6 separate regions of the Homo sapiens genome follow, and regions 1, 2, 3, 5 and 6 are each linked to region 4. The links come from fine-mapping of genetic effects on gene expression. A gene starts in region 4. Each other region holds a variant in brackets. All regions are shown on one strand. Distances are between the middles of the regions. Region 1 overlaps BDP1 (BDP1 general transcription factor IIIB subunit). Region 2 has its middle 56 kb from the start of SNORD13B-2. Region 3 overlaps BDP1 (BDP1 general transcription factor IIIB subunit). Region 4 holds the start of NAIP (NLR family apoptosis inhibitory protein). Region 5 overlaps LINC02197 (long intergenic non-protein coding RNA 2197). Region 6 overlaps BDP1 (BDP1 general transcription factor IIIB subunit).

Region 1 (5,326 bases), 440 kb after region 4:
ATTTTGATGTTGCCTTCTATTTATGTTAGTAAGGAATCATTGGGAAGAAAAGCATTTGTAGCATTTTGATGGGGGAACAAAACCACATAACATCCCTTAGTCAATAGAACATCCCTTCTTGTTAATGGATTGATTGATACACCGTGGACTTAAATTACATTTTTCACTGATAGTAATTTTTACATTATTTATTTATGTTTTCACTGTTTTTGGTGAAGACCACAAATAAGTTTCATACGCATACACATAGATGCACATACACAAACATATTTATAAAATAAACCTTCAGTCTGATTTTTCACATAAAGATGTCCAAGTGATAAGTGATATATTTATTTGAATTAAGACAAGTATAGGCCGGGCGTGGTGGCTCATGCCTGTAATCCCAGCACTTTGGGAGGACTAGGGGGGCAGATCACTTGAGGTCAGGAGTTCAAGACCAGCCTGGCCAACATGGCAAAACCCTGTCTCTACTAAAAATACAAAAATTAGCTGGGCCTGGTGACGTGCATCTGTAATCCCAACTACTGGGGAGGCTGAGGCATGAGAATTGCTTGAACCTGGGAGGTGGAAGTTGCAGTGAGCCGAGATTGTGCCTCTGCATTCCAGCCTGGGTGATAGAGTGAAACTGTCTCCAAAAAAAAGACGAATATAGTTGAGCAGAATGAATTGGTAATGTTTTCTAAATTGACTATGGAAAATTACAAGTGGGAAAAATTTGTGTTATGCATATATTAGAGTCCATGTTCTTTTTAATCTTGAGGATTGATTTCTTTTCTAGAAGGGCAGGTAACAGCAGTAGAGCATGCTGGCCCTGGAGTTAAATACTTAGGGATTGAATCTCAGCTTCATTTCTTTACTAGCTTTGTGACCTTGGGTAATTTAATTAATCTATTTCCTCATCTGTAAAATAGACCAATAATAGTTCAGGTTGAGCATCCCTGAAATTGAAAATGCTCCAAAGTCTAAAATGTTTTGAGTGCCAAAGTGATGCTCCAGGGAAATGCTCATTGGAGCATATTGGATTTCAAATTTTCAGGTTAGAGATGCTCAGCCAGCATGTATTCTGCAAGTATTCAAAAATGTGAAAAAATCCAAAATGTGAATCATTTCTGGTCTCAAGTATTTCAGATAAGAGATGCTCAACCTCTATCTAGCTCATTAGAGGGTTGTGAAGATTAAATGAGTCAATACATGTAAAACACACTTAAACTGGTGTCTTGGGCCTTGTGCAGTGGCTCACGCCTGTAATCCCAGCACTTTGGGAGGCCGAGGTGGGCGGATCACCTGAGGTCAGGAGTTCGAGACCAGCCTGGCCAACATGGTGAAACCCCGTCTCTACTAAAAATACAAACATTATCTGGTTGTGGTGGTGCACGCCTGTAATCCCAGCTACTCAGGAGGCTGAGACAGGAGAATCGCTTGAACCTGGGAGGCAGAGGTTGCGGTGAGCCAAAATCGTGCCATTGCACTCCAGCATGAGTGACAGAGCGAGACTCCGTCTCAAAAAAAACCAACCAAACAAAAAAACTAGTGTCATGAAAATAGTAAGTGTCCAACCAGTGTCAGCTTCTGTTATGAATTATAAAATGCCTCTTAGTTTTTTTTAAATTAAGGGAAGGCATTTTGCTTGGTGCTTTATATCTGTTATCTTATGTAATTATATCAACTATGTGAAGTAGATATCACTGTTTCACACAGGAGAAAACAAGCTTTCAATTTATGTCTTCTAAAATGTAAGCCTCACAACAATTGCTTGAACCTGGAAGGCGGAGGTTGCAGTGAGCTGAAATTGTGCTACTGCATTCCAGCCTGGGCGACAGATCAAAGCCTCTAAAAATGTTTTATGGGTTGGGAATTGGGGGTGGGGGGATTAAAAAAAAGTTCTGTATTTTACAGAAACTGCTTATTTGCTTATTTAATTTATTTTGGGGAATTAAAGATTAAACATTTGCTTCAAGAATTTTACAAAATACACAGAATTTCAAGTCACTACAGGGTAAAAAAAAAGCTGTGTAAGCATAAATTCTCAGTGAGCTATTAAGATGTTTAGTTAGAAGGCATCAGTAAGCATTTTATACATTGAGCTTTATTAGTTTTATTCTTTGGTTATTTATTTAGTTTTGAGACAAGGTCTCACTGTCACCCAGGATGGAGTGCGCTAGTATAATTGCAGTTCACTGCAGCCTCAACCTCCCAGGCTCAAGTGATCCTCCCACCTCAGCCTCCCAAGTAGCTGTGGCTATAGGCATATGCCACCACATCCAGCTAATTTTTTTGTATTTTTTTGTAGAGATAGGGTCTCATTTATGTTGCCCAGGCTGGTAACTCCTGAGCTCAAGCGATCCTCCTGCCTCAGCCTCCCAAAGTGCTGGGATTAGAGAAATAAGCCACTGTGCCTGGCCACATTGAGCTTTTATCTAGTCCTAGTCACTTTAATTGTTAAAATCTAAATACTGCCTGGGTGTGTGGTTCACTCCAGTGCTTTAGGAGTGTGAGGCAGGAGGATCACTTGAGCCCAGGAATTTGAGAGCAGCCTTGGCAACGTAGGGAGACTCCATCTCTACCAAAAAAAAAAAAACCCCACAAAATTAGCCAGGTGTTAGGCAAGCATCTGTAGTCCCAGCTACTTGGGAGGCTGAGGTGGGAGGACTGCTTGAGCTCAGGAGTTCAAGGCTGCAGTGAGCTATGATTGCGCCACTGCACTTTAGCCTGGATGACAGAGCAAAACCCCATCTCAAAAGTAGATAAATAAAAACTAAAAGCTATTGAGGGTAATGTGCTACAACTTTTTAATATTCCATCTACAAAATTACATAATTGGGGTGAGAATAATATTAAAGCACTTACAGTGAACGCAACAGTGGACTGTATATTTGCATATAGTACATCTGAAATTCTTTAATATTTATAAAAGTGGATCTGTGTGTTTATGTATACAGAAACAATGGAAAAACAAATATGCTATAAATGAAAGTCAGAGGCCACCAGATCGTTCAAAAATGACTATGAGAGACTTCATATATTATCTACCAGATAATAATCCAATGACGTAAGTAAAATTTATTTCTGCTTTACTATCTCTTTTTTTTTTTTTTTTTTTTTGGAGGTGGAGTCTCGCTCTGTCACCCGGGCTGGAGTGCAGTGGTGCAATCTTGGCTCACTGCAACCTCTGCCTCCCAGGTTCAAGCGATTCTCCTGCCTCAGATTCGCGGGTAGCTGGGATTACAGATGCTCGCCACCA[C/T]ACCCGGCTAATTTTTGTATTTTTAGTAGAGACTGGGTTTCGCCATGTTGGCTTGCCTGGTTTTAAACTCCTTACCTCGGGTGATCCACCCGCTTCGGCTTTCCAAAGTGCTGAGATTACAGGCGTGAGCCACTGCACCTGGCCTTCTGTTTTACTTTATTTGGGTATGTAGTTATATAAATAGCACTTTTATAGTAAATTTTTTAGTTTTCCAAAAACATGTTGACAAAATTTGGAACACATATGTCCTTTTAAATAGAATTTCATAACAAAAAGTAGCAGTATTTCAAGTAACTGCTTTCTGGGGATGGTAGATTATGCCCTTTATTTCTGAGATTAAAAATAAATTTCCTGGCTGGGCACAGTGGCTCATGCCTGTAATCCCAGCACTTTAGGAGACCAAGGTGTGTGGGCCGCCTGAGTCCAGGAGTTTGAGACCAGCCCGGGCAACATGGTGAAACCCTGTCTCTACAAAAAGTACAAAAATTAGCCAGGCATGGTGGCATGTGCCTGTAGTTCCAGCTATTTGGGAGGCTGAGGCAGGAGGACTGCTTGAACCCTGGCATTTGAGGCTGCAGTGAACCATGTTCATGCCACTGCATTCTGGGTGCACTCAGGGTGACAGAGCGAGATCCTGTCTCAAAAAAAAAAATGTTTTTTCTTTGTTATATTAGTTACCAAGGCATAGTGAAACCAACTAAGCCACTTTTCTGTAATCAAGATTGCAATTTTGGCCAGGCGAGGTGGCTCATCCCTGTAATCACAGCATTTTAGGAGGCCAAGGCGAGAGAATTGCTTGAGCCCAGGAGTTTGAGACCAGCCTGGGCAATGTAGTGAGACCCCATCTCTACAAAAAATACAAAAATTACCTGGGCATTGTGGCGCACAGGAGGCTGAGGTGGGAGGATCACTTGAGCCTGGGAGTTCAAGGCAGCAGTGAGCCAAGATTGCACCACTGCACTCCAGCCTGGGAGACAGCGAGACTCTGTCTCATTTAAAAAAAAAATGTTTGAAAGGATTGGAATTTCTATTTTTAACATACTATAAACTGATCTAAAGGAGTGATCCAAGTTTTATGCCCTGCCTTCTAATAAAGACAGTAGTAGTGTGATTAATAAATCCTCCAAGAACAAAGCTTCTTTATTAAAGTTAGCCTGGGGTTTCTGAGGCAGGTTTATAATAAATCTCATTGTTGTATTGTTGATGGTTTAGCAGGTAGAGGTAGGAGTTGGGACAGTTCCTCAGCATAGCCCTTTTTCAGATTCACCAGGTCTTTGGCCCTGTTGAAGAAAGGGCCAGAAACCTAGGTTTTGAGTTGTTTAACATCCAGGAGTTGGAGACAAGTCACCTAAGTAAGCTGCTTCATGCCTTGGGATTGGGAGCCTCCTTTCACTGAGAAGTTAGAGGATAAGAACATTCTCTGTTGGGCGTGGTGGCTCATGCCTGTAATCTCAGTGTTTTGGGAAGCTAAGGTGGGAGGATTGCATGATCCCAGGAGTTTGAGACCAGCCTGGGCGATATGGTGAGACCTCGTCTCTACAAAAAATTAAAAGACAAAAATTAGCCTGGTGTGGTGGCATGCACCTGTAGTCCCAGCTACGTGGGAGGCTGAGGTGGGAGGATTGCTTGAGCTCAAGAAGTAGAGGTTACATGGAGCTGAGATCACAGCACTGCACTTCAGTCTGACACAGCAAGACCCTGTTGTTGTATTAAAAAAAAAAAAAAAAAGTATTCTTTACTTAGGACCTAACAAATTATTTGTATGTGATGACAAGCTTTTGACTGAAAAGTTGATTGTTGGATTGTACTGTCATTAACGAAATGCTGTGATATATCATTAAAAATTAGAAGTTAGAATAATTTTCTTCTTGCCTACAGATAGAATTGGGAAGATATAAATTAATAATTTATTAAAGATATTGTTATTTATGTTCAATAGTTCTTCACTGGAACAAGAAAAGAAAACTGAAAAGCCATCGACTCCAGTCCAGACAAGAGAGTAAGTATTTTATTTTTGAATATATTCTATTCCTACATTTTTTAAGAAATGAGATCAAATGGTGCTTCCTGTTATAGTTGAAT
Region 2 (5,326 bases), 120 kb after region 4:
GTGTCCCCTGAGTGAATTGAAAAATAAATTAGCTCTATCATCTCAGGCACAGTAATTCATCATCAGGCCAAATAATTAATTACTCAGGAAGGCTTTGATTTCTATGGGAGCCAAGTGTTCTCCAAATTGTGTAGTACTGTATCTTGCCAAATGTTTTATTTTAGGTGTATGTTCAACAGGTTCAAATATTCATCAATACCTACGTGACAGGCACTATTTTAGGTACTGGAGCTAGAACTTGAGCAAAAAAGACAAAAAGTCCTCCTCTCAGGAAGCTTTTACTCCAAAGGCCTCCTGCAGGGGCAGCAAGCTAAACTCTGTGAGCTAAATTCAACATATCATCTGTTTTTATTGGAACAGTTACACTTATTCATTTCTGTGTTGTCTATGGCTGCTTTCACACCACAATGGAAGAGCTGGCAACAGAGACCATATGGCCTGCAAAGACTAAAATATTTACTATCTGCTCCTTCACAGAAAAGTATGTTGACCCATTACATAGTGGATTGAGTTTGAGAGAGGAGATTAAGGTAAGGCCAACATTTTAAATCGACCTATGAGGAAAAAGTGTTTTTTTTCTCCCTAAAAATTACCTCCTCCAGAAGAAAACAAAACACAAAAAAACATAAAAATAAAAAGAAAGAAAATGGCAAGACCCAAGGTAAAATGAAGGGTAAAAGTGAGCACCACACTAATACATATGTATCAGCGTGAAATCAGATGCTGCCATTTAGTTCCTGCTGAAAGTGTTGGTTTGGCTTTATTAAAATAACTTAAACACAGTCTTTCAATGTTATAGACTCATGGTAAAGGTTTCTTTTTCCTTTTGTGAATTTTTAAAAATTTCTCTGCAAAAATTATTCCTCACACAATTATGTAACTTTATATTTTCGATTAAAACTAAAACTAAAAATGTTGAAAGAACAACTCGATATTGGATTAAAATATTCATTTTCCATCTTCATTCTCAGGATTCATATTTGGTTGCCTCATTGCGATATAAGTATGTTGAAAAAAATGGAAAATTGCTGAAAGCAAAAATTTTAAAACTCACCAGTATTAATAATTATCACCAAATAACTATTACAGAAAACTTCCTCAGAAAGTAAAATTAGAGTGAAGGTATCACAGGTTGGCACTATTTTCATTCCCGACCAAGAAACTGACACCTGAAAATTAAAAAAAAAAAAAATCAGAGTCTACAGTTTTACAAATAATTAACAAAATGAACATCAAAATAGGGTGCAATTTGTTTAATTGGCAAAGGCACACAACGAAAAAGAAATATGTCAATTAAACTGTCAACCATGTTAATTTTGCCTCTGAGAAAAACATTGTAATGGGATAATTTCACGAAATGCTTTGATGACAAGAAAATGCCAAAATATGATTAGCTACTTCAAAATTCAGCTGAAACAAGAAAGCAATTGGTGGCAGCCAGAATAACCAAAGGTCTTTTTTTTAATATACCTTTTTTTTTCCGTCTCTTTTTGCCTGTGTTTAATCAACAGCGTACATTTTGTTTGACAGTGAAATGATTCATAATGAAAACACTGGCATCACAAAAACTTAGCAGAAACTTTGCTATAAGATTAGAGTATACACTTCTATTTTCCCCAAACTCTTTAAAAATATAATTACTATTTCTGAAAGAATTTGTTATCTTTATGAAATAATGTATTTTTCTTACTAGCATTAAGTGCTTATTTAGCTAAAAGCCAGAATTAGAAGCAATTCACTCATATGAGTATGTTTATATTTATATTGTCAAATATATTTACTTAGAATTTAAACCAAGATATATTTTATTTATTGTTCTCATCACTGCCTGTTAGTCAGAATGGATATTTTAAATTTTACCAGGTCATGTAAATTTTACTACCTATATTTCTTATTCCTGTTTGTTTAGAAAAATAATCTAGTCTATACCTAAGCTAACAAATAATCCTAAACATTGAAAATACAAACATGAGTATGAAGAATTCACTTTCTAATAAGTTTCAGCTTTTTACAAATGGCTGCTTAAATATAATGCATAAATATGACGTATTTTTAAAAATACATCTTGTTTATGCATTACTTGAACCATAACTAATCCCCATTTCCAGTCAAAAAGAACACTGTCTACATATGTTAATCTCTAATACAACAAAAGCAGGCTTAGCTTAATGGGAAACTTATTAGAGTAAAATAGTTCTTTTTATTTTTTATTTTATTTTATTATTACAATAAGAAGATTATAATTTGGTAACTAGCAGGAGAAGAAAGACTTCCAAAGATTATTTTATGGGTCCATGTATTTGCTTTTCCTGAGGGTAACTAGTGCTAATTCTAGAAAGGCAGAATGCTGTAGGAAAAACAAAATAAGCCCTGGAGTACAAAAGATTTGGATTCAAACTTTGAAGAAGGATGGGGAAGTGTTTAGGAAAGTGCTTCCCTGTGTAAAACTTAGCTGGTAAGTACCATATTTCACTGAAATTGCTGTTATAATAATTGAAACGGATTATTATTGGAAAAACAACATCAGCAAAACTAAAACCTAGATGAGTTTAAATAAGTG[CCAGCCATTTTTCTCCTGTG/C]GGGATTTAGAGTTGAAGTGGGTATCTTCGATTACTTTTCTTTATCCTCATTCTTATTCTTATAATTTTTCCTAATAAGTCACCTAAGAAGGGCATTTAAATAAGTGCTAGCCTTTTTTCTCCTAGGGGGATTTAGAGTTGAAGTGGATGTCTTCAATTACTTTTCTTCTCTATTCTCGTTCTTATTCTTATAATTTTTCCTAATAAGTCACCTAAGAAGGGGATTCTAGAAACATCTCTTTCCAAGAATACATATTGTTTTAAGAAATATCAGTTACCCCAAATACTTGAATAGAAACTAGGAAAACAGGAGAGGGAGATTATAGGTGTAAACAAGGAATTACTGTGCAGTAATATGTGTAGTGGACGTGAAAAGTAATGACTTAACAGTTTGAATACACAAAGATGGACCAAACAAATACATTTATTTCTCCTTTATTCCAAATTGCCATTGAAATAGGAAAATATAGTACTTATTAAAATAACTATGGAAAGTTGAGAAGAATTCTACCAACAGACTAAAGAGTAAGCAATTTCTGAAGGACATAAGTCATATCAGAGGCACTTTAGTCTTTGGCCATAATAGAATTATTGGAGGGACTTGCCTTTTCACTATAAACAATGATAAAACTGGGCAACATATATGAGGAACCAGATTTTATGCATCAAACAAGAAGTACAAGTTTTTCATACTCAAGAGAGAAGAAAGCTGTGAGGTAAGTACCACATTTAACCAGAGAATGTGACTAGGGGCACTTTTTCTCCCATTAAACAAGGAGGCAGACTCTAAAAATAATGAGTTTAGAGGAAGAAATTAAAGCTTAAAGCTCTCATTTTGTAGGTTGTCTGCTTATTTGTTGATAATTTCTTTTGCTATGCAGAAGCTCTTAGTTTAATTAGGTTCCAAAAAGAGGTAGGGGTAGAGGGACAAGAGCCAAGGAACTTCCTGTTAGGTATTCAGTTCACTACCTGGGTGACAGGATCAGTGGAAGCCCAAACAGTAGCAGCAAGCAATATAACTTTGTAACAAACCTGCACATATACCCCCTGAATCTAAAATTACAATTAAATCTCTATCTATATCATCTCTCTCTCTATCTATCTATCTATCGATATTTGTAAATAGCTTACACTTGCTTAAGTGGTTATTTAAGAGCTGCTGAAGTGGCTGAAATTTGTATAGGAAAGGAAAAAGAGGCATGGGGTAGGCCTACAGAAGCCAGAATAAGTATTTGGCACCAATTTCGTCAAAAGCTGCTCTATACCTGAGCAGGGTTAACATCTGCAAGACCTGCTGAAAGCAGATACTGTGGGAATAAGATATCAGTAGTAACAGGACAAGGAGATGTTTGGGTTACTGACTAGCCACAGGGAAGATATTTTACGGAATATTCCAGGCATTAAGAACAAGGACTATTTCTTTCAGTAAAGACTATGTCCTATCTTTAAGAACAAAAATGAAAGAGATTTTCATTAACAAATAATGAAACCAGGCATGGCAGATCAAAAGGATCTGGAAGCCACTTAACAGCTTTCAAAGGACTATCTTAGGGCCTTTTACAAGAAGACAACGTCTAGATTTTCTACAGTGTATTAGTCAAAAATACAAGTTACGCAAAGAAGCAGGAAAATTTAATAAATAATCAAGGGGAAAAAAGCAGTCAATAGAACATACATCATAATGACCCAGGCATTGAAATCAACAGATATATATTATGAATATGTCCTTAGACTATGGAGATATTGTCACAATGATAGAACGAAAAAGGTAATTTTGAGAAATGAACATTGTTGAAGTAACAAGTGCAAAATATACAATGAAAGAGTCACTGGCAGGGTATACTCTCAGATTTCAGCTATCTGAAAAGCAGACAAATAACCTTGAAAACCATTTTTGAATTTATCTAATCTCAAACAAAAGAGGAAAATGATTAAAATAAGAGATTGAATGACATGGGATATCAAGCCATCAAACCTATACACAAATGAAGTCTCAAAAGGATGAGTCAGAAAATGGGAAAGAAAAAATATATTTGAAGAAATAATTGCCAGTGTTTTCAAATTTTGATGAAAAATTTCAATGCAGAGATCCAAGAACATCGAATCAACAAGAACACATGTATGAAGGGTATAAAGCCAATAGCATAATTAAAATGAAATATTGAAAAATATCCATTTACTCTAAGGAAGGTAACACTGAACCGGTGAAGAAAGAAATATCAACAACCAAGGGAAGAGAACAACACCCAAATAAGAAAATAGTAGGCAAATAGTAACATGGTAGATTTAACAACACTGACATCACTGATTAAATGTAAATGGATTGAACATTTATATTAGTTTCCTAGGGTTATATAACAAAGTACCATAAACTAGGTGCCTCAAGCAACAAAAATGTATTATCTCAAGTCCTGAAGGCTAGAAGTCTGAATTCAAGGTACTGGTTCCTTCTAAAGGCTGTGAAGAAGAATCTGTTCTAGACATCTCTCCGTGGCTTTTAGATGGCTTTCTTCATGTTCATATGTTGTGCTTTCTGGTGGCATTTTTGTGTCCAAATTTCCCCCTTTCATAAGGCCACCAGTCACATTGGATTACAGGCCACTCTAATGATCCCATTTTGACTTGATTACATCTATAAAGATCCTATCTTTCAATAAGGTTGCATCCTTAATTACTGGGGTAAGGACTTCAACGTATGTTTTTTTTGGCAGACAATTCAACCCATAACACACTTAAATTAAGAGCTA
Region 3 (5,326 bases), 530 kb after region 4:
GTCTTGAACTCCTGGCCTCATGCATTCCTCCCACCTTGGCCTCCCAAAGTGCTGAGATTACAGGCATGAGCCACTGTGCCCAGCTGTTCTTGATACTCTTATTTTAATTCTTTATTTTGGAAGTAAGTTATATCTTAACTACCATTAATTAAGATAATTGTCCATCGTGTAGCATTAGAAATTGAAGACTTTAATATTTTTATTTTTGGAGACAGAATCTTGCTCTGTTGCCCAGGTGGAGTGTAGTGGCGTGATCTCAGCTCACTGCAACCTCCACCTCCCGGGTTCAAGTGATTCTCGTGCCTAAGCCTCCCAAGTAGCTGGGACTATAGGTGCGTGCCACCACACTGGCTAATTTTTTGTATTTTTAGTAGAGATGGGGTTTTACCATGTTGACCAGGCTGGTCTCAAACTCCTGGCCTCAGGTAATACACCTGCCTCGGTCTCCCAAAGTGTTGGGATTACAGACGTGAGCCACTGCGCCTGGACTAGAAGGGACATTTTAGGTTAAACGTTTAACTTTACAATTAGGGAAAATACTATTAAATATTCAGATTTATTTTATTATTATTTTTTAGTTGTTTATTTATTTATTTATTTATTTATTTATTTTTAATTGATCATTCTTGGGTGTTTCTCGCAGAGGGGGATTTGGCAGGGTCATAGGACAATAGTGGAGGGAAGGTCAGCAGATAAACAAGTGAACAAAGGTCTCTGGTTTTCCTAGGCAGAGGACCCTGCGGCCTTCCGCTGTTTTTGTGTCCCTGGGTACTTGAGATTAGGGACTGGTGATGACTCTTAACGAGCATACTGCGTTCAAGCATCTGTTTAACAAGCACATCTTGCACCGCCCTTAATCCATTCAACCCTGAGTGGACACAGCACATGTTTCAGAGAGCACAGGGTTGGGGGTAAGGTCACAGATCAACAGGATCCCAAGGCAGAAGAATTTTTCTTAGTACAGAACCAAATGAAAAGTCTCCCATGTCTACTTCTTTCTACACAGACACGGCAACCATCCGATTTCTCAATCTTTTCCTCACCTTTCCCCCTTTCTATTCCACAAAACCGCCACGTCATCATGGCCCATTCTCAATGAGCCGCTGGGCACACCTCCCAGACGGGGTGGTGGCCGGGCAGAGGGGCTCTTCACTTCCCAGCAGGGGCGGCCGGGCAGAGGCGCCCCTCACTTCCCAGCAGGGGCGGCCGGGCAGAGGTGCCCCTCACCTCCCGGACGGGGCGGCTGGCCGGGAGGGGGGCTGACCCCCCCACCTCCCTCCCAGACGGGGTGGCTGGCCGGGCAGAGGGGCTCCCCACTTCCCAGTAGGGGCAGCCAGACAGAGGCGCCCCTCACCTCCCGGACGGGGCAGCTGGCCAGGCGGGGGGCTGACCCCCCCACCTCCCTCCCGGACGGGGCGGCTGGCCGGGCGGGGGGCTGACCCCCCCACCTCCCTCCCGGACGGGGCGGCTGGCCTGGCGAGGGCTGACCCCCACCTCCCTCCCGGACGGGGTGGCTGCCGGGCGGAGACGCTCCTCACTTCCCAGACGGGGTGGCTGCCGGTAGGAGGGGCTCCTCACTTCTCAGACGGGGCGGCTGCCGGGCGGAGGGGCTCCTCACTTCTCAGATGGGGCAGCCGGGCAGAGACGCTCCTCACCTCCCAGACAGGGTCGCGGCCGGGCAGAGGCGCTCCTCACATCCCAGACGGGGCGGCGGGGCAGAGGCGCCCCCCACATCTCAGATGATGGGCGGCCGGGCAGAGACGCTCCTCACTTCCTAGATGGGATGGTGGCCGGGAAGAGGCGCTCCTCACTTCCTAGATGGGATGGCCGCCGGGCAGAGACGCTCCTCACTTTCCAGACTGGGCAGCCAGGCAGAGGGGCTCCTCACATCCCAGACGATGGGCGGCCAGGCAGAGGCTGCAATCTCGGCACTTTGGGAGGCCAAGGCAGGCGGCTGGGAGGTGGAGGCTGTAGCGAGCCGAGATCACGCCACCGCACTCCAGCCTGGGCACCATTGAGCACTGAGTGAACAAGACTCCGTCTGCAATCCCGGCACGTCGGGAGGCCGAGGCCGGCGGATCACTCGCGGTTAGGAGCTGGAGACCAGCCCCGCCAACACAGCGAAACCCCGTCTCCACCAAAAAAATACGAAAACCAGTCAGGTGTGGTGTCGCGCGCCTGCAATCGCAGGCACTCGGCAGGCTGAGGCAGGAGAACCAGGCAGGGAGGCTGCAGTGAGCCGAGATGGCAGCAGTACAGTCCAGCTTCGGCTCGGCATCAGAGGGAGACCGTGGAAAGAGAGGGAGAGGGAGACCAT[GGGGAGA/G]GGGAGAGGGAGAGGGTAATATTCAGATTTAATTCAATACTATGGAATTTAAGTTATAAGCCCTGAAGTATGAATGGAGCTCAAAACTATTAATAGCATTTTTGGGGCCATGGCCGTGTATCTCTTAGTTTGGAGTTTTTTGGTTTTATTGGAATTTTCATTGGAATACCTCAGCCTTTAACTTTATTATTGGAAGGATTTCTAGGATCCTTTAAAAAAAAAAGTGTTAAATAACTTCTAATTCAGTAATTTAGTATGTATTTCTTTTCTATGCAGTATTTGTTTACCAGCAACTTCAGTTGGTCAAGATGCCATGGGTTTATCTATTTCTGGAAGAGATAATTCTAAAAAGCCGCCTGATAATTTGGATCTTGTATCTAGGAAGAGATTTCAATGCAGGCTTGATAAAAATGACCACATTCCTCCTGCCAAAAAACGTTCACTCACTTTAAGAGATGACTGTCAAGAATATACCACTGAGGTAAGTGGTATATTAAGTACCACTCAATATGGCCATTAAGTAAGATGGCCATATTGCAACAGATCTGTTCCTATTTTTTCCTTTATTCTCTTTAAACTTTTAGATATATATAAAGATAGTTCTGACATTTATCATCATAAGTTATTCAAGTAAAACTGGTTTTGGATTATCACTTTTAACCAATGGTAAATGAAAATTGATGGAGAGTAATCAAGAAACTTATTCCCAGCTCTGTATTGGTGGCTAAAAATAAGACCAAAAGCATTATATATGTCTGGATCTTGGCTCTACCACCTAGTAGCTGTAACACCTTAGGCAAGATACTTCACCTCTCTCTCTGATCAGGTTTCCTAATATGTAAAATGATAATACTAGTATCATCATCATCATCATCATGCCTAAAGCTACCCATTGCTTTTAGGAGTAAAACCACAGCCTTTAGTGCCCCACATTGTCTTGCTGATTTTTGTCTCTAGTCTCATTTTGTGCCAGCTTCTGCCTCACTTTCTGGCCACACTGGCCATCTTTCAATTCCTTAAATGTCCCAGGACACTTCATTTGATGTACCTTCTGTGTGAAACATTCCCTTGAAAAACATACAGACTTCTTTAGTTCAGTCATCAGTGCCTCAGGGAAGTCCGGCCAGACCATGCGAATTCAGTCACCAACCACTATGTTGTAGGTTTCCTAGTACCCTCTTGTTTTTATACTCATCTAGTACTCATCATAATTTGTAACTACACTATGGAAAAGTCCTTTTAAAACCCGTGTTCTCAAAGAGAAAGTTAAAGACCAATAGTTCTTGAGTAATAGTTGACAAAGAGCAAGTGTGCTTTTATATATTTGGTGAGTAAAAAAATGGCATATCCCAGAACTGTTTTATTTTCTCTTGTTATGGGTAAGATTGAACATCTTTTCATATGCTTAAGAGCCATGTGTATTTCCTTTTCTATGAACTGACTTTTCCTTTACCCACTTTTCAATTAGATTATTGATCTTTTTCTTAGAGAACTGGAAGAACTCTTATATATGTCTGTGGTAATGAGTTGCAAATCTTTTTTCCCAGTTTGTCATTGTCTCTTGACTCTGCTTTCTTTGTTGTTGTTTTCTCATGCAGAACTTTTGGATTAACTTTTTATATGAACATTTCCAGACATATTAAAAGATAGACTAGGTATAATGTGCCCCCATGTACCAGTCACCCAGTTTCAATAATTTATCAGCATTCCATGCAGACATTATTTTGTTTTGTTTTAAAAATATCTTTAATGACATGGACAAAAGACCATAGTACTTTACTAAGTACAAAACTAGGTCACCAGACTATGATACGCCATTTAAAAAATGGTAGTTATACAGTGGTGTGAATATGTAAGAAAAGTATAATGTCCATTTGGCTTATTTGTGATTTTTATTTTCTAAACTTTGTTTTTAGCATTTTAACAATTTTTTAAAAATTGCTTTTACTAGTTGAGTATCCTTTATTCGAAATGCTTAGGACCGGAAGTGTTTCAAATTTCAGATTTTTTTGAATTTTAGAATAATTGCATTATACTTACATTTGTATTATACTTAACAGTTCCACATCCCAAACCTGAAAAGCCAAAATCTGAAATGCTTCAATGAGCATTTCCTTTGAGTGTCATGTCAGCACTCAAAAAGTTTAGAATTTTGGAGCATTTCGGATTTTCAGCTTTGGGATGCTCAGCCTGTACAAAATTGTAGGATACACATACACTGTATTCAGATAGAAGACATTTTTTATTTTCCATAATCAGATTTATCAGTCTTTTTGTGTATGGCTTCTGGAGATTATGTTATACATTGAAAGTCCTTTGAGACTTAAATTTCCTAGTTAATGTTAATATTACTGATTTGTTGCGAATTTGATTTGGTGTAAGGAATAGGGCCAAGTTAATTTTCCTCATATGACTTTTACCGTTTACTGAATAATTCATCTTATTTCCACTGATAGGAAATTCTGCTTTTATCAGTAAGACAGTAAATCTTCATATTTGTTTGGATATATTCCTAAAACTTCCTTTTCTTTTATGTTGATTCACCTATTTGTTCTGGGGCCAGTATCATCATACTGTTTGAATTTTTGTAGTTTTCTTTATTCTTTTTTTTTTTTTTGAGATGGAGTTTCTCTCCTATTGCCCAGGCTGGAGTGCAATAGCGTGATCTCAGCTCACTGCAACCTCCACCTCCCAGATTCAAGTGATTCTCCTGCCTCAGCCTCCCGAGTAGCTGGGATTACAGGCAGCCGCCACCACGCCCAGCTAATTTTGTAATTTTAGTAGAGACGGGGTTTCTCCATGTTGGTTAGGCTGGTCTCGAACTCCGGACCTCAGATGATCCGCCTGCCTCGGCCTTGCAAAGTGATGGGATATTACAGGTGTGGGCCACCACGCCCGGCCGAATTTTTGTAGCTTTATGATGCACTTTGGTATCTTATAGGGACAGTATCTCTCCCAAACCCATACAATTTTCTTCTTTTTTCAAGTTTCTCCTCATTACTT
Region 4 (5,326 bases):
TTGACATTCTTGTTTTCTTAATTTTCCTGGGTTTATACTTTTAAGAATCAGTAATATTGTGTATTTATTACCAAAAACATGAACTAAAATTTACATAGAGCCTATCAAGGAAAAACCATTTCTCTACTCACATTTCTGACATCAAATATATGGGTTTTCCACCAACCAATTCTCCAATTCTCCACAGACAGCAGCTGAGTGTCTTACAATTTTACTCAATTCTGATGCTAATTAACCAGAGTTAGTGCAGACCCCACGGGTTAGGGGCTCAGCCCCCAAGACTGCCCCCTACTTCAGATGCCAGCCACAACTATTAGGACCTCAGGGTACCCACACTTCTGTCTGAGTTCACTACAAATCATGGGTATCTGCAACCCCCTCAGGTTCGATAATTTCTTTCTTGGGGGTTGGGGGAGTTTAGGAGCAGAGGTTTAATAGGCAAAAGAAAGAAAAACGAGAACAGATCTCTCCCTTGTGAGGGGCTTCCGAAAGGAAAATCCGGCCTGCGGTGGACTGCACCAGATTTTATAGGTAGGCCTGAGGAGGCGGCGTCTGATTTGCGCAGAGCCCACAGGTTGGTTTGAACAGGTGTGACGTTTACATAGCACGCGGGGAAGGTTGGGCGCCCCACCCTAATCTTACTATGACAAAGGGCAGAGTGACCTTGACATGCCATGTGCTTTCCAGAGCAAGGGCAGAGAGTGACGCTCACTGTGGTGGGAGAGGAGACCCTCTGTTCCTAGAAAATCACAACAGCATGCCCCTGTGCTATATCCCTGGTTACTACAGCAGTCTTTGTTCTTGCCTAACAAGATTACTTCCCTGAACTGTAAAACTCCCTCAGTACTGCATACAGAGAGAGGTTAGGAGACATGGTGGTCGTGGATAGGAAATGAGGGAATTATGATAGGAAAGTTGGAGGTCCTGTTGCCGACACCCCTTAGGGTGGCCGGAGGCTGGGGTCAGTCCAGAAGCCTTCGGATGGCACCAGGAGGTAGCCCCAGCCAGAAATCCTCAGTTGCTCCAGGACCTCTTCCAGCCCCACACGACAGCTTGGTCCTCCGTGAAAGGAAACTGGTTCAAACATGGCCAATATGCCCAGCAGCCCGTGGGTATTGGGGGGTTCTCCATGTTCTCCCCAGCAAGCCTGTCCCCCAAAACTTGTAAGGCTGGCAGCCACGCTCATAATTTTTAAATGGCTAATTGGTGAAGGCAGAGTTTTCTCATTCACAGAAGCAGAAGGGGGCCCAGTATTTGGTTTGGTTTGATTCTAAAATGGAGGCCAAGAGCCTCGAAATCAAAGGACAGAGTTGAGGTCCGCCCCTTTACTCACCTTTGCAATGAATGCACCTTGGAATCCCAGACGAAGTCCCCAATATGAAGTGGCATTGTTGTCTGGGGTCAATACCCGGGGTTCGTCGTCTCGCACCAACAAGGTTAAGGACACGATACACACGAAGAGTGGGTTTAGGAGCGGAGGTTTAACACGCAAAAGAAAAAGGAGAACAGCTCTCTCCCTTGTGAGAGAGAGCGGCTTCCGAAAGGAAAATCCCAGGTTCGATCGTTTCTTATAATGGCTCACAGAACTCAGAAACTTTACTTATGTTTACTGCTTTATTATAAAGGATACAGATGAACAGGCAGTCGAAGAGGTACACAGGGCAACGTCCAGAAGGGTCCCAGGTGAGCACAGGACCTTTTGTCTTCATGCAGTTTGAGGTGCATCGCCTTCTTGGTATGTGGTTGGGGTTAACCAAACCGAAAGCTCTCCAAACCTGTGGTTTATTTTTTAATGGAGGTGCCATCACTTAGGCATGATTGGTTAAATCACTGGCAACTGGTGGTTAATCAATCTCCAGCCCTTTTACCCTCTCTGGAGGTCGAGGCGTGGGGCTGCAAATCCCAGACCTCTAATCATGCCTTAGTCTTTCAGGGGATAGCCCCCATCCTGAAGTTGTCTAAAGGATCCCAGCCACCAGTTAGCTCACTGTCATACACTCTTATCACTTGGAGATTCCAAAGGTCTTAGAAGCTCTTGTGTCAGGAACCAAGACCAAGTATTCTAATAAAAGATGTTTCTATCACCCCTGTCACTCAGGAAATTACAAGGGTTTCTGGAGATCTGTGCCAGGAACTGGATGAAGATCAAATATATATATTTATTATATCACAATATTGCAGCCTACTACTTGCCAGGCACAATTCTAAGCACTTTACATGTGTCCACTTAATTCCTTTAACAGTCCAAAATCAGCTATTGCTATATCATCTCCATATTACAGATAAGGAAACTCAAGCACATAGGGGTTAAGGTTAACCAGTGATCTGGCTAGTCTGTACTTTTACCTGATGTTGTGCTGCCATACAGACTAGATATATTTTTTTTTTTTTTAGACTGAGTCTTGCTCTGTTGCCAGGCTGGAGTGCAATGGCGTGATCTCAGCTCACTGCAAACCCAGCCTCCTGGGTTCAAGTGATTCTCCTTCCTCAGCCTCCCCAGCAGCTGGGACTACAGGCACATGCCACCTCGCCCAGCTAATTTTTGTATTTTCAGTAGAGACAGGGTTTCACCATGTTGACCAGGATGGTCTCGATCTCTTGACCTCGTGATCCGCCCACTTCGGCCTCACCAAATGCTGGGATTACAGGCGTGAACCACAGCACCCAGCCAAGACTAGATTTTTAAGAAAAGGCAATCCAGATATCCTAGAAGGTTCATTTCCTCTTTTTGGTGGTTTAGCAAATTTCTTAGTAAGGCTTCTAGCTGTTATAGCAGCATTAGTATGTGAACCACAGTTAAGCTCTAGTCCAACAAGGCCATTTCTTCAGCAGAGAAGCAATTGTTAAATAATCGACCAAGTATTCATTGGCTCCCTCTTTTTGTATCAACATACACAATTGTTACAGTGCCAGTGTTTATTGGAACCACTTTCCATGGTGCATCCAGCTGTGCCTAGACCAGCAGGTCTTTTTCCAGAAGTCCAGATGGCAGGGGAACCTCTTCACGTTGTTGACCCTTCTCCCTGTAATTTTTTCCCCAATAAACCTTTTCATTATGTTGCTGTATTTATACCCAAATACACATTACATTTATTTTAGTACCTTGTACATTTTGTTGCCCTTATAAATTGGAGGGGTTTTAAAAACTATTTTTTATTCTCAATATTCATTGATGATGTATAGGACTCCTTCTGGACTGTTTAATATATGACTGTAAATCCCCCTGAATTTTCTTAGATGTTTGTAGTATCTGATTATGACAGTTTTGTCTTTTATTTATTGCCTTGTTGCATTGATTAGGTCCTCTAATATAATGTTGCTTAATAATGAAGATAGATATCCTATCTTATTCTTGACTTTTGGTATAAATTCTTCTAAAGTTTGAGCATTAAACATGATGTTTGATGTAGATTCTTAGTGGATACTCTTTAGCAGTTAAAGTAACTTCTCTTTTACTTCCAGTGACACTACTACCTAATTTGAAGAGAGGATTTGGAATTTTGAGTTTCAAAATAATACTGTTTTCAAACACTTTTTTAGCTAAAAAGTACACACACATAGGGCAGTGTTTTAAAGTTTAGCTACTTCAGGGCATATGTGTATACTCACTGAAGTTTTAATTTAATGGCTTATTGGTCATTCATGTATCTTCTTTGGTAAGGTAATTAAATATTTTTCTTTTTTTTTAAAAGACAGAGTCTCGCTCTGCCGCCCAGGCTGGAGTGCAGTGGCACAATCTCAGCTCACTGCAACCTCCGCCTCCTGGGTTCAAGCGATTCCCCTGCCTCAGCCTCCCGAGTAGCTGGGATTACAGGCGCCCACCACCACGCCCAGCTAATTTTTGTATTTTTAGTAGAGACAGGGTTTCACCATGTTAGCCAGGCTGGTCTCGAACCCCTGACCTCGTGATCCACCCACCTCGGCCTCCCAAAGTGCTGAGATTACAGGTGTGAGCCACTGCACCTGGCCGTAATTAAATTCTTGACCCATTTAAAAATTGCGTGTTTTCCTTTTTATTACTAAATTATAAGGATTCTTTATATATTTTGCATACTAGTCCTTTGTTAGATATTTACATTGCACATATATTCTCTCAGTCTGTTAACCATCTTTTCATTTTCTTAATGGTGTCTTTCAAAAAGAAGTTTTTAATTTTGATGAAGTCCAATTTTAATTTTTGTTATGATTGATAGTTTTTGTGTCCTAAGAAATCACTATCTACTCTAAAGTTGTGAAGATATTCTAAAAGTTAACATTTGTATTGTACAATATCAACTGTTAGTTGAGGATATGGAGCAACTGGAAGCTCATACATTAGTTGTGGGAATGTAAAATGGTATTAATACAATGTCTTTGGAAAAACAGTTCACTGGTGTCATGGAAAGCTAAGTATACTCTTGCCATACAATCTAGCAATTCCATTCCTACATATTTACCCAAGAAAAATGAAAACACATGAACACACAAAGATTTATACAATAATGTTCATAGCAACTTTATTCATAATAATAACCAAAAAATCAGAAACAACCCAATGTCCATTGGGGATAAACACATGGATAAACAACGTATCCATAAATGAAGTACAGGTGGTAAAAAGAAGCAAAGTATTGATATATGCAACAAATGAATAAGCTCAAAAACATTATGCTAAGCAAAAGAAGCCATACATATCATTTAATTTTTAAAAATTGTATATAACAGACAAATCTCATCTACAGTGACAGAAAACAGATCAATGTCACCGGCCGCTGGAACTCCTAGGGAGTACTCACTGCAAAGGAGCCCTTCTGGAGTGATGAAGATGTTCTCTCTCGATTGTGGTGGTCATGGCATGGGTACAGAACACTTGTCAAAAGGCATGGAATTACTCAAGATGGGAGCATTTTTACTGTATGTTAATTATAACTCAATAAAATTGATTTTTTAAAATTCTAAGTACATATATAAATACATTAATGTTTACAGAGCATTAAGAGAAGTGAAAAAGGTCGGGCGCAGTGGCTCACGCCTGTAATCCCAGCACTTTGGGAGGCCGAGGCGGGCGGATCACGAGGTCAGGAGATCGAGACCATCCTGGCTAACACGGTGAAACCCCGTCTCTACTAAAAATACAAAAAAACAATTAGCTGGGCGTGGTGGCGGGCACCTGTAGTCCCAGCTACTCGGGAGGCTGAGGCAGGAGAATGGTGTGAACCCGGGAGGCAGAAATTGCAGTGTGAGCCGAGATCGCGCCACTGCACTCCAGCCTGGGTGACAGAGCGAGACTCTGTCTCAAAAAAAAAAAAAAAACAAAACAAAAGAGAGAAGTGAAAAAATAATTCCA
Region 5 (5,326 bases), 340 kb after region 4:
TCCTGCATGTAAAAGAAGCAATTTCATGTGGATAAGTAAAATGGTTAAATTTGTTTGTATTCTATACATCTATACATAATTACATGTACATATACATAATTAAACTTATACCCTTGTCGATGATGAAGTGAACGGTTAAAATAAAGTATGCTAGTCTTCACTTAATCATGTTATTTTAATTCAGCATAAAAGATAGATACAGTCATTATCTAACTAGTTAATTTGATTTTTTTTGGTTATTCTTATCCACAAGTAAGGCTTTTAGATAGATCTGAAATGGGATAATGGTGGAAGATGAGGAACTACCACTGATCAAGTAGCCATATTAGCAATGATGCAGTTTGCACAGGGAAAACAAGAAGGAATAAATAAGCAAATGGGAGAAGAATTACAGAGAACAGTATCCAAGATGCTTCAGTTCAGATAATATTTTGTTTCATTATGAGAGCCTGCACTTAATTTTCCACCAGTTTACCAAGCTAGCGTGACCATCATGACCTTGTACCATCTTCAGATTCCACGAATGGTAGATGAAGAGTTCTACCCATCACTTCTAATAGGCAAAGATAGCACATGCCTACATGCACTGATTTGGAAGAAGGACAAGGCTAGAGATGGTGAGCGTTCCGCTTGAGCTATGGGCTATTAGCTTGTGGTAAACATGACTTAATAGTCAGTGATATGGACTTCACTGGCAGGTCTCATTCAGATAATCCCACAGTTCTTCTACTTCTTAATATAATATTTTCTAGGATAGGGGGTGGGGTGTAGTTGGGGGATCCATCAGGTGAGTTGAGAAGAGGAATGTGATAGGAACTTTTGTCACTGTTGGAAAGTGCGTGGGTGGTGACATTGAATAGATTCACTCAGGGAGACAAGTTAGCATATCTTTCATCTTTTTATAAGCAGCTGAGTAGAAAGAAATTGAGCAGCAGGAAAGGAGGGACAGGATACAAGAAAGTGTCTTTTCTTCCTCTCCATTCTTACAATGTCCTGATTCTTCAGCCCAGAGCTTTAAATATTTTTGTAACTACTTTCTTGGGGAACTGTCATGTTAACAGTAATTTTGTATATATTGAGCTCCTAAAGCTATGGATGCTTTATAAAGCTACAATGTAAATTTATTTCTCTCCATAATCCCTGTCACTTTCCCTGTCTCCACATAAAAAGCAAGAGACTTAACATTTCATTATTAATTACAGCAACAGCAAGTTGGCTGTCAGAGTCAAACCTCCACACACTCCCCCCACCAAGCTGCTGAGCTTCCAGCCATTTACTCATTAAGCTTATGATGATGATGGAGTTTTTAAAACCTGCTCTTTGTAATGGACAGTAGACCTTAAAAATCTGTCATAAATTGCTCAACTGAGGAAATCAAATGGCAAAGAGAGTGAACCAGTGTAAGAGCAAACAAATTGCACCATAAAAGAAAGTAGTGTCTTTAACTGAGCTTTTATTTTTACAAAGAATGTGAAAGCAACTTGGAGACTGTAAGTGGATGCTGTGAGACTGTTTAACTAAGAGCAGTTATTCACATTAAAGAGGCTGAACACATAAGGAAAAAAAAAAAAGAAAGAAAATCAGACCAAACAAAAACAAAGGAACAAAACCGCCTTAGAGTGTTTTCGTTTTTCAAATGATATGGTACTGCTGAGTAAAAATGACTAGGTCCATTTTTAAGTGTATTTTTTTCCTTAACATTTTAAAACCAGACTACATAAGATAAAAGCATATTACAAGGTGAATACCGATCAAGTTAAGGATCTAAGCGTATAACAGATTTTTCTCTCATATTTCATAAGAGATTTTTCAAAATGCACATTAATTCTGATATTTTTATTCATTTATTCAGGAAATATTAATGAGGACTGTTGAAGTCAAAATAGAAATGTAAAGAGGAATCTCTAAATTTAACATTTAATTAAGAAATAAATAATTTGCAAATCAGGGCATATATTCAGACCGAGTGGTCTTCAGCATGTCTGAAGAATGAAGAGAAGGCTGGAGGTTTTACTAAAAAAAGAAATATTAATTATTGCTCTTTGAGAAAGTTCATTAGCATTGGTAAGGTTCTGGGAAGCTGGAACGTCTGACTGGTGACTGATGGTGGGTAAAGTAAATCTTAGATTTGTAGCAGGTTTGTTTGGCAACTATTAGATAAAACAGTTGTGAGGTTACAGCAGGCACTTTCAGCAGCCAGACTTGCAGTGAATTACATTTTGGGAGAGCAATGTTTTGTGTCCTGAGTGCTTTTTGCCCCTGCCCTCTTGACTCTGTTTTCACTGGGTATGACGAGAATGCCCCAATTCAAATAATCAGCTTTCACAGTACCTATTATGGTCCAGTTCTTTTCTCAAACACTTTGGAATTCAAGAATAAACTAAACAGAAGAAAATCTGACCCTGAAGAAGAAAGTAACAAATAAGTCATAAGTATAATGGATAGGTAAGTTATATTGCAGATTTGAAAGAAATATGTGATGAAAAATAAGAGAAGTAGAGCAGGAAAAAAGAAATTAAGATGGTAGGTGTGGTGGAAGGAGAGGAGGCAAATGCAGGCTCAACCAGAAGGTAAGAAGTCAACAAACATTTTGGAAGG[T/A]AGGAGTTGTCAATATGGACAACATGGACATCTGGGGGAAGAGTTCCATGTGGAGTGAGGTTACCCTAAATAATTGAACTCGCTGGAAAAAAACACAACTCTCAATTTTACTACATAGAAGCTCTTGTAAATGAGAGCAGATGAGCTGTTACTTGTGTTGTGTCCCCAAATGAAACAGCTCATTCTAACATGGGGTAGTGTGCATCAAAGACAAATCATGCCATCTCACAATAAGTATACCCACCAAGAACCTTTTGGAGACCTATATTTGGCACTAAAAATACCATTATGAAGAAGAACTTGTATGCCTAATTGCACCCATGCTTTGGTCAATCCTCAATTATATATACATTATAATCAACCACATACAAAAGTCTAATATGTGCATTTACCCTGTGATTCTGTTTTATTCATATTAATAGAAGCATGTTTCTACCACTGTGGTGTCATATTATTCAATTATTTTGAGTTTTAAATCCCAGGGACCGACTTTACCTGAGTATTGTAGCTCTAAAGTTGGAAAGAAAAAATAATGCTGATACCATAATCAGATAGACATAAACAAAAGTGGGAAGAAATCTGCTATTGTGATGAAGCCTATATCATTTAACACCTGAAACTTTGACCAAGCAGAATAAATGAATGAATAAATAATTAAATAAATTAATAAAATGATTCTGGAATTGTAAGCAAGGGAAGATGAAATGATCAGTAGCAAATAACCAAACATGAGCTGACATCATGAAGAAAATAGCAAATTCATGAATTATTCTAAAATCGAAGCATTTGTTAGTCTTAAGTGTGAATATCTCTCTATGAAATTCTTTAATCTGGCCTTACAGTATGATTTACAAAGCACAGTTTCTATTTCTAAGAGCCTCTTACAACTCAAAACTTGCCTTACAAATTTTCTTAGAAGTAATCTTGACAGCAAACACATATTGTTTGAACTTTGTTTTTCATATTTTGTACATTAATTGCCATTCACGTTTTAGTAGTAAATTCTACGTGGTCCCAGGTGTGTGACTGTGCATGCAAGTTATATCAGAACAGGCCTTCCCAGCTTTGTCTTATCGTTATAATATGCAAACTATTGGCATAATTCTACATCTCCCTAAAGATTTTTTGAGTCTTTTGGGATTGATGGTCTCTCTCCCTCTCTCTGGATGCTGCTTTAGGACACTTACTAAGTATACTACTGTGTCTTTCTCAGTGATTAATGATGACTAGATTAATTGGCTTTCTCTTTCATTGTAAGTTCCCCTTTAACATTTCTGATTTTAATTGTGAGAAATAACCCTGCGCATGCATGTATTAGAAGTCAGGGAAGATCCTCTTGATCCATCCCATCAATTTCCCAGGAGCAATTGGCATAATTTAAATCTTCATCTAACTATTCTCCTTCAATTGTAATTGGTGCCACCTATTTTTAAAGTAGCCTATTCTTGTAACATTAACGTTATTTTGATAATTTATTGCGACCCCATTGCCAAAAACAGGCACAAGGGCGCCATAAATAAAGCAGTCTGATAATTGCTTAAACAAAACTGGGCCCCATGGACCAGCAATAAACTGTCATTAAGGTTAGGCTGGAGAAGCACCTGCAATTTCTCTGGATAACCTCTTTTATTTCTCTGTGTACACTACTGCTCATTTCAGAAAATGACAGTTTTGAAAGAGATCAGCAATTTGTTGAAACAAAGAATGAGAAAAACATGGTCTTGGAGGTATAATTTACTTTTACATTTTGAATTAAAAAATAGAAAAAGATATGTTGAAAAAAATTATCATATGAAAACCATAAGATTTCTACTGTAGAGCTAGAGCTATTTCACAGTTTAAAAGCTTGCTCCCTTTGTGGTAACTTTTATTTGTTATTTAAATTCAAGTTAATCTTCCCTGACTTGTAGTACTAAAAAATAGTACTCATGGTCTTTTATTGTTTTCATGCACAATTTAGATAATGTATTTTAGTGTTGCAGCTTGGCTCAGCAATTTTAAAGATTTAGGTTCTGAAAGTTGTTCATCAATAAAGTGGCCTATGTACCTCATTTGCAATGTGAAAGTGTTAGAAATATGAAAGAATTATATTTATTTTATAATACAAAATATAGAAAGATTAAAACTATATTTAAAACCAATTCAGAACACACAAGTAGGTATCACTTAAATGTCTTTTTCAATGTCGGTGACATTTTTAGTTGCTTTTCTTTCTTAAAATTTGCTCCCAAAGTGGCCATAATAATTGATATTTTATAAAGTTGGGGAAAAAAACAAAATGAATGTCTTCCTTTTATATTTATCAGAAGGTTATTTAAATGAATTCTTCTTGAATTTGATGGAAGCATTTTTTAAATTATGTTAATTTTAACACATCAGATGCATGTTTGAATACAAATAAGATCAAATAGGTCTTGAGTCATATCTGCAGGATCTTAATTTTAACATCATAGAGACAAAGATTTTAGTTAATCTTTTGTTTTGCTGTCAAATTTCCCTCTAATTTTGGACATGACACATTTTATCTTATTGAGTTTCAATTATATATGTATAATTATATATATAATTGAATATATATGTGTACATATATACGTAGATATATATATATATGTTGGACTCATGAATGTACATGAAGATACTAGCTTTGAATGAAACAATGTCAATTGCAAACTGCTGTTCATGCTTAATATAAATTCAATTATGAACCGAAATCCTTTAAGACAAAACA
Region 6 (5,326 bases), 460 kb after region 4:
AGGCTGAGGCAGGAGGATTGCTTGAGCCTGGGAGATCAAGGCTGCAGTGAGCTGTGATCACAGCACTGCATTCCAGTCTGGAAGACATCAAGACTCTGTTTCAATAAACAAAACAGAATAAAAAATAGTGTTGACTTTTGTTCTGGAAAACTGTTAATGTACTGCCAACTTCTTTGTTCCTGTTAAGGCTTGTCTTAAAGCTTTGTTGAGGCAGATCTAGACTGGTCTTTAATCTAGGACATCCTTTCTCCAATGGGATTTCTCATCTGATTTACAGAAAATAATTTGAATTACTATTATATTTTATTATTTTCTTCTTTTCCCAGAACAGTCTCATGGTAGGCATGAGTTATTATTTTCTAAGTTCTCTAAGGATGGTTATACTAATACTATACTATTAATAGATAAGTGAGAGAAGGGAATGCATTGCATACAGTGGCTGCTTTAATGCATTAGTACTTAATTCTCATGCTACATCCCTGGTAGAGAAAGGCTACTCTAGGGTATCGTTTTTATCTCTAATGGTGATCTTTCTGGTGTCTGAGGTGAATGTATTTGGGTATTAATGAGGTCTTTCCATTAGGATGCACCTGAACTCTATTGTCATATGGTGTTTTATGACTTTTAGCATCTTCCTTCTGCCTTCATGGCTTTAGCAGCTGTTCTCTTTTAAGCCTTATATTCTGGACATATGCAACCCATACTTAGGCCAAGGTATCATGGGGTATTTCCACCAGGCCTGTGAGGTACCCCTCTACACAGTTCCTTTTTAGAACTATGCTCCTAAAGATTCCCTACCTCTGCAGCCTAGTTGGATTGCTGTACCCTGTTTGGCCTTCACCTCCCTTTCCTTGGTTAGGAAATTGAGCCCAGGCAGAGAGCCAAGGTAAACATGGGCACATCTTGTCTGTTTTCCTTCTCTCCGTGATTGTAGTCTTGCTCTCACTATTGTCCTTTGCTTGAAAATAATTGATGCATATATTTTGTCAGTGTTAAAAGTCATTCGTGGTGGAGTTGGATATGTAGGACCTGTCCATAATGAGTTACTTTGCCAAGGCCAGAAGTGGAAATTATGGGATTTATTTTGTGATCATGGAATTTGGCCTGTTACTGGTTCTTACCTATGAAATCATTGACTAGTTTCAATATATTTCTTTGAGAAAGTTTTAAATTGTTCTGAATTATATTACCAATTAAGTAAAATATGAGGTAGCACTGTTTTAGAATTAAATGCCTGAAGCCTATTGATATTTCTTTTAGGACATTTAATTTAGTGTTTATAGCCAATCATTTTTTGTGGAGGTAACATTTGTTAACTTTTGAGGAAATGTTTAAATAACAGTATGATCTTTTAAGGCAGAAATAAGATTATCTTTGAAAACTTCTGTATTGATAATAAGTTTTGTGAAGAAAAACAAAAGAATGGGAAAGAAGGGCAACCTGTACATTAAAAGATGTTAATGTCATATCAGGTTTTAAAAATATGGGCAAGGCTAAACTGTATCATCTAAGAATACACACTTGGGTCATAAACAATAAGGAAATACAAGAAAGTGATTGCTTTACAAGTCATATTAGTGGTTAAGTTCTTTTGAAGGGAGGAAGGGGGCATGAAGTACTTCCTTTGTTTTATGTGATATTCTCTCTCTCTTTTTTGCAATTAAAAAGCTTTATTTTTGTGCTTTTAATAAAAACTTGTAGATCACTGACGTGTAGATGGGAAACATTGGCTGTTTGTTTCCTCTCCTACGATGTGTTTGCGTGATCAGACGTCTTCAGACACAAACTTATGCCCTCAGTCTTCCTAATGACTTTAGGATGGATTGAGCCTTAAGCCTTAAACATCTCCCTCTTAATGGAAGTAATCTGGTAGTAAACTGAGGACAGGGATTTTTGGGGCTGAGAAAAATGTGAGGAAATGTGCCTTAATATATAGAAGTTTGTCAGGATAAACTTGGCCTGCTTCAAAATTTCACTTAGTTGTTTCTCTATAGTCTTCTCTCCATGCTACTTGAAATATATTAGAACAATGATGTCAGAGGTTTAACCTGTTACGAATACTTAATTTTTTAAAAGTTAATACCAGTGAGCTTAGTCATAGGTTTGATCTGCTTTCATGTTTGTTGACTTTATTTTTTTCTGTCCTCTGTAAATCCAGCTTCCATTGCTGATTCATGCTATTGGTAATGAGAATCAAGAAGCTCAGTAAAAATCTTTCATCCTTATTTTTAAAAAGCCGAAGGTTTAAGTAACTTGCCTATTGGCAAAGACATATTAAGTAGAGAGCAGTATGTTATTCCTAAGAGTTTCATTTTAATGCTTACTGCATTTAAAAAAAAATGCTTGTTTTATGAGAGAAAATTACCATAGGGTTTTTTGTTGTTAACAGAATAAATTTAAACGGGAAGAGAAAACAAATGGATGGAGAATAGACAAAGCATTCCGTAAGTATTAAGACCTCTTTTACAAAGTATTACTTGAAGAGCCTAAAAAATGACCAGTCTTTTGTCTTTGGCTTTAGTGTGTTTTAGATTTGTTTTGTTCCTGTATTGGCATTAAGAGGAAGCAGTCTGAAATTTTTCTGTTTAGCAGTATGGGTCTGGCACTTGCTACAAATATATTGGCAGGAGATTATCCAGAACATCTAGGTGCAGGTAAACAGTTCTAAGTCCAAGAAGTTATGGAGGGATTGATGCTACCACTTCTAAGTGTTATTTATTCTGAAGGAACTGTATGGGAGGAGATCATTGTTTCTGGAAGACAGTACTATTAGTTATATAGATGGTTCTTTCTGGTTCTGAATGACTAATCAGTCATTCAGTCAATAACACTGACCACCTACTATATGGTAGTCATTGTTCTAGGTATTGAGCATGTAATGGTGGAAGATAAATGGCAGATGAGAATCCTGCATTTAGAACCTTAAGTCTGATTGGATGGCGGAAGAAATATAGTTGATAAGCATAATTTTAGGTAGTGATTCATTTCCAAAAAGAAGAAAAAAGAGAGGGTGGATGTTTAGGTCTCTTTTTTCCTAATGATCATTGGATCATTA[G/C]GGAAGTTCTGTCTGAAGAGATACACTAGCATTTGAATTTAGATCTCATCTGAAGGAATGATAGATATCTTGCAATTTCTAACTAAAATCCTCATTAAAATTAACATATTTTTCTTCAAGTCTAGAGAAAGATATCAAAGGATCTATAAAGAAAAATACATTTACTGTTAAAAATAGTTCTTGTATTTTTTGATTACAAGATAGGTCTTTTTTTCACCACAGCTGTGGACAGGAATATATTTTTTGTGGATTTACAATTATCAGTATTTTATGATTAATAAATGTATTCAATGTCCATTTAGTCGTAAGATTAGCCATAGTGCTAATTTTAGAAAAAAAAAATCCAAATGTAGAGAGTACCTACATTATGTAGCATGTATATTTATTTTATGAGTAGACACTAAGGTAGGTGGGTGGATCCTACACCCAGTGTTTTATCGGGTCTTTAGGGAAACTGCTTTGAGGAATGGCTCTTAGAAGATCTGGAATATTGTGCTCCTCAGCCCATTCCATATTAGAGAAGTGGTCCTGAAACTTCATTAAGTGTAACACATTATAGTCAGAAAATAATTCGTAAATCTATAAACAGTCTATTTGGATTGTGAAGCATTTTTATAGACTATTATAATAGATATTTTTAAAATTTATTGATCTTAAACAGGATACAGTGTTGTATGCCTATAGGCCCAGCTACTCTCAGGAGTCGCTGAGGCAGGAGGATCTTTTCAGCCGAAGAATTCGAGGCCAGCCTGGGCAACACAGCAAGATCCTATCTCAAAACTAGAAACAACTCATTGATTTGGAGGCTTTCTATTGGAAATTTTTTTTTTAAATTAAAACCTATATAAGTTTTTTGAGAGAACTTATGTTTTGAATTTCTCTGAGAACCATGTGGAGATCCTTTATGATTCTTTGAGTGCTATGTCTTTCAGAATCATTGTGGAGAGTCAGAACAAATGAAGTCTGGGTCAACAGTGAAATAGGGTCTTCAGGAATCCCAGATTTGGGTTTAGTTTCCAGAGATTCTTTTTATTTTAGTATATACCTTCTTTTCTGAGGCTATCTTGTAATCAAACCAGTCTTTGGCTTATGTGCATAGAGCACCATTTTCTCTACATTGACTTTAAGTTCAAGCAAGGATTTGCCTCCTGGTCTGGATTCATTCCTGGAGTGTTCACTGATTACTTTCAGATATAATGCTGTTGATAGGTATTTAGTGGGCATGTTCCTGATTAAATTCATTTACTTCCCACTTTGCTGATACTTATAAGAGTAAATGGTGAAATGGTTGTGATAAAGGTAGGGCATATGGTGGTGAACAGGCATTTCAAGGACTTCTCAGTCCATAAAAAAATTGATTTATATTTATACACAGCTCAAAGTGTAGTTCAAGTTTTGACAAAGAATATGCCTGTGTAATCACTACCCCAAACAATAGAGGAAATGTTTTCATCACTTCACAAGGTCTATTATGTCCCTTTCTGAACAATCAAATGCTGTCCTCCTGGCCCAAGGCAACCACTATTTTCATTTTAATCACCATAGATAGCTTAGTGTGTTCTAGAATATCTTATACATGGTATCATATAGTATGTACCCTAGTATCTGTTTTCTTCCACTCAGTATGTTTTTGAGATTCCCTCATATTATTGCATGTATCAGTAGTTTGTTCCTTTTGTTTTGTTTAAAACTAGTTTATTTGCAATAAACAAATTATTACAAATTTGTAATAAATTATTATTTGTAATAAACTAGTTTATTTGTTTCGTTGCTGAGTGGTGTTCTGATGTGAACTAATCTATTTCCCTGCTAAGACCAACCTATTCTGTTGCTGAGTGGTGTTCTGTTGTGTATTTGTTTTTCTGTTCTCCTACTGATAAACAAACCCATTTGCTTTTGATGTTATGATACTTTAAAAGCTAGAAGTAGCTTTTAAAAATAAAAACTTGAAAGTTCTTTTCCTTTTCTTTAAACAGAGGAAAAGCGCCCTTTTGACTTCGATTTTTTTGCTCATTTGCTTCAGAAAGTTCTTGCTGAAGAAGAGAAAAGAAAACAAAAATCTGTTAAAAATCACAGTTTAAAGGAGAAGAAATCCACCAAACCACGGAAAAATGTAAAAGGTATTGATTTTAAAAGGAAGTGTGATAGTTTACTTAGTAGTAATAAACTTGCAATATTGTCCCTCAGGCCTTTGAGAGTTCATGTGTAGCTCAGGTAGTTAAGATCATCAAAGCATCCAGTTGGAGGGAGTATATGTTTTTTCAATCAACT

Evidence for each region.
Region 1: its variant is fine-mapped to the expression of NAIP in whole blood (TOPMed, PIP above 0.99).
Region 2: its variant is fine-mapped to the expression of NAIP in thyroid (GTEx, PIP above 0.99).
Region 3: its variant is fine-mapped to the expression of NAIP in whole blood (TOPMed, PIP above 0.99).
Region 5: its variant is fine-mapped to the expression of NAIP in whole blood (TOPMed, PIP above 0.99).
Region 6: its variant is fine-mapped to the expression of NAIP in whole blood (TOPMed, PIP 0.96).

Annotation. Positions count from the first base shown.
Region 1 is chr5:71,458,875-71,464,200 of GRCh38, forward strand. It overlaps BDP1 (BDP1 general transcription factor IIIB subunit), which reads left to right. Exons shown (of 39, transcript NM_018429.3): 3 at 2,943-3,052; 4 at 5,184-5,243. Among named protein-coding and RNA genes, the nearest start is that of BDP1, 5.9 kb to the left of the region's middle. The variant C/T (reference allele first, on the strand shown) is at 3,245.
Region 2 is chr5:71,141,591-71,146,916 of GRCh38, forward strand. No RefSeq gene overlaps it. Among named protein-coding and RNA genes, the nearest start is that of SNORD13B-2, 56 kb to the left of the region's middle. The variant CCAGCCATTTTTCTCCTGTG/C (reference allele first, on the strand shown) is at 2,561.
Region 3 is chr5:71,550,517-71,555,842 of GRCh38, forward strand. It overlaps BDP1 (BDP1 general transcription factor IIIB subunit), which reads left to right. Exons shown (of 39, transcript NM_018429.3): 35 at 2,600-2,804. Among named protein-coding and RNA genes, the nearest start is that of MCCC2, 34 kb to the right of the region's middle. The variant GGGGAGA/G (reference allele first, on the strand shown) is at 2,318.
Region 4 is chr5:71,022,985-71,028,310 of GRCh38, forward strand. NAIP (NLR family apoptosis inhibitory protein) reads right to left here and starts at 2,355. Exons shown (of 17, transcript NM_004536.3): 1 at 1,631-2,355; 2 at 1,334-1,422. RefSeq lists promoters at 109-2,714, 2,119-2,483 and cis regulatory regions at 1,905-2,118, 2,484-3,948.
Region 5 is chr5:71,367,101-71,372,426 of GRCh38, forward strand. All of the region lies in intron 2 of LINC02197 (long intergenic non-protein coding RNA 2197), which reads right to left. Among named protein-coding and RNA genes, the nearest start is that of LINC02197, 77 kb to the right of the region's middle. The variant T/A (reference allele first, on the strand shown) is at 2,599.
Region 6 is chr5:71,481,453-71,486,778 of GRCh38, forward strand. BDP1 (BDP1 general transcription factor IIIB subunit) reads left to right here. Exons shown (of 39, transcript NM_018429.3): 8 at 2,390-2,444; 9 at 5,032-5,175. Among named protein-coding and RNA genes, the nearest start is that of BDP1, 28 kb to the left of the region's middle. RefSeq lists an enhancer at 1,950-2,244. The variant G/C (reference allele first, on the strand shown) is at 3,056.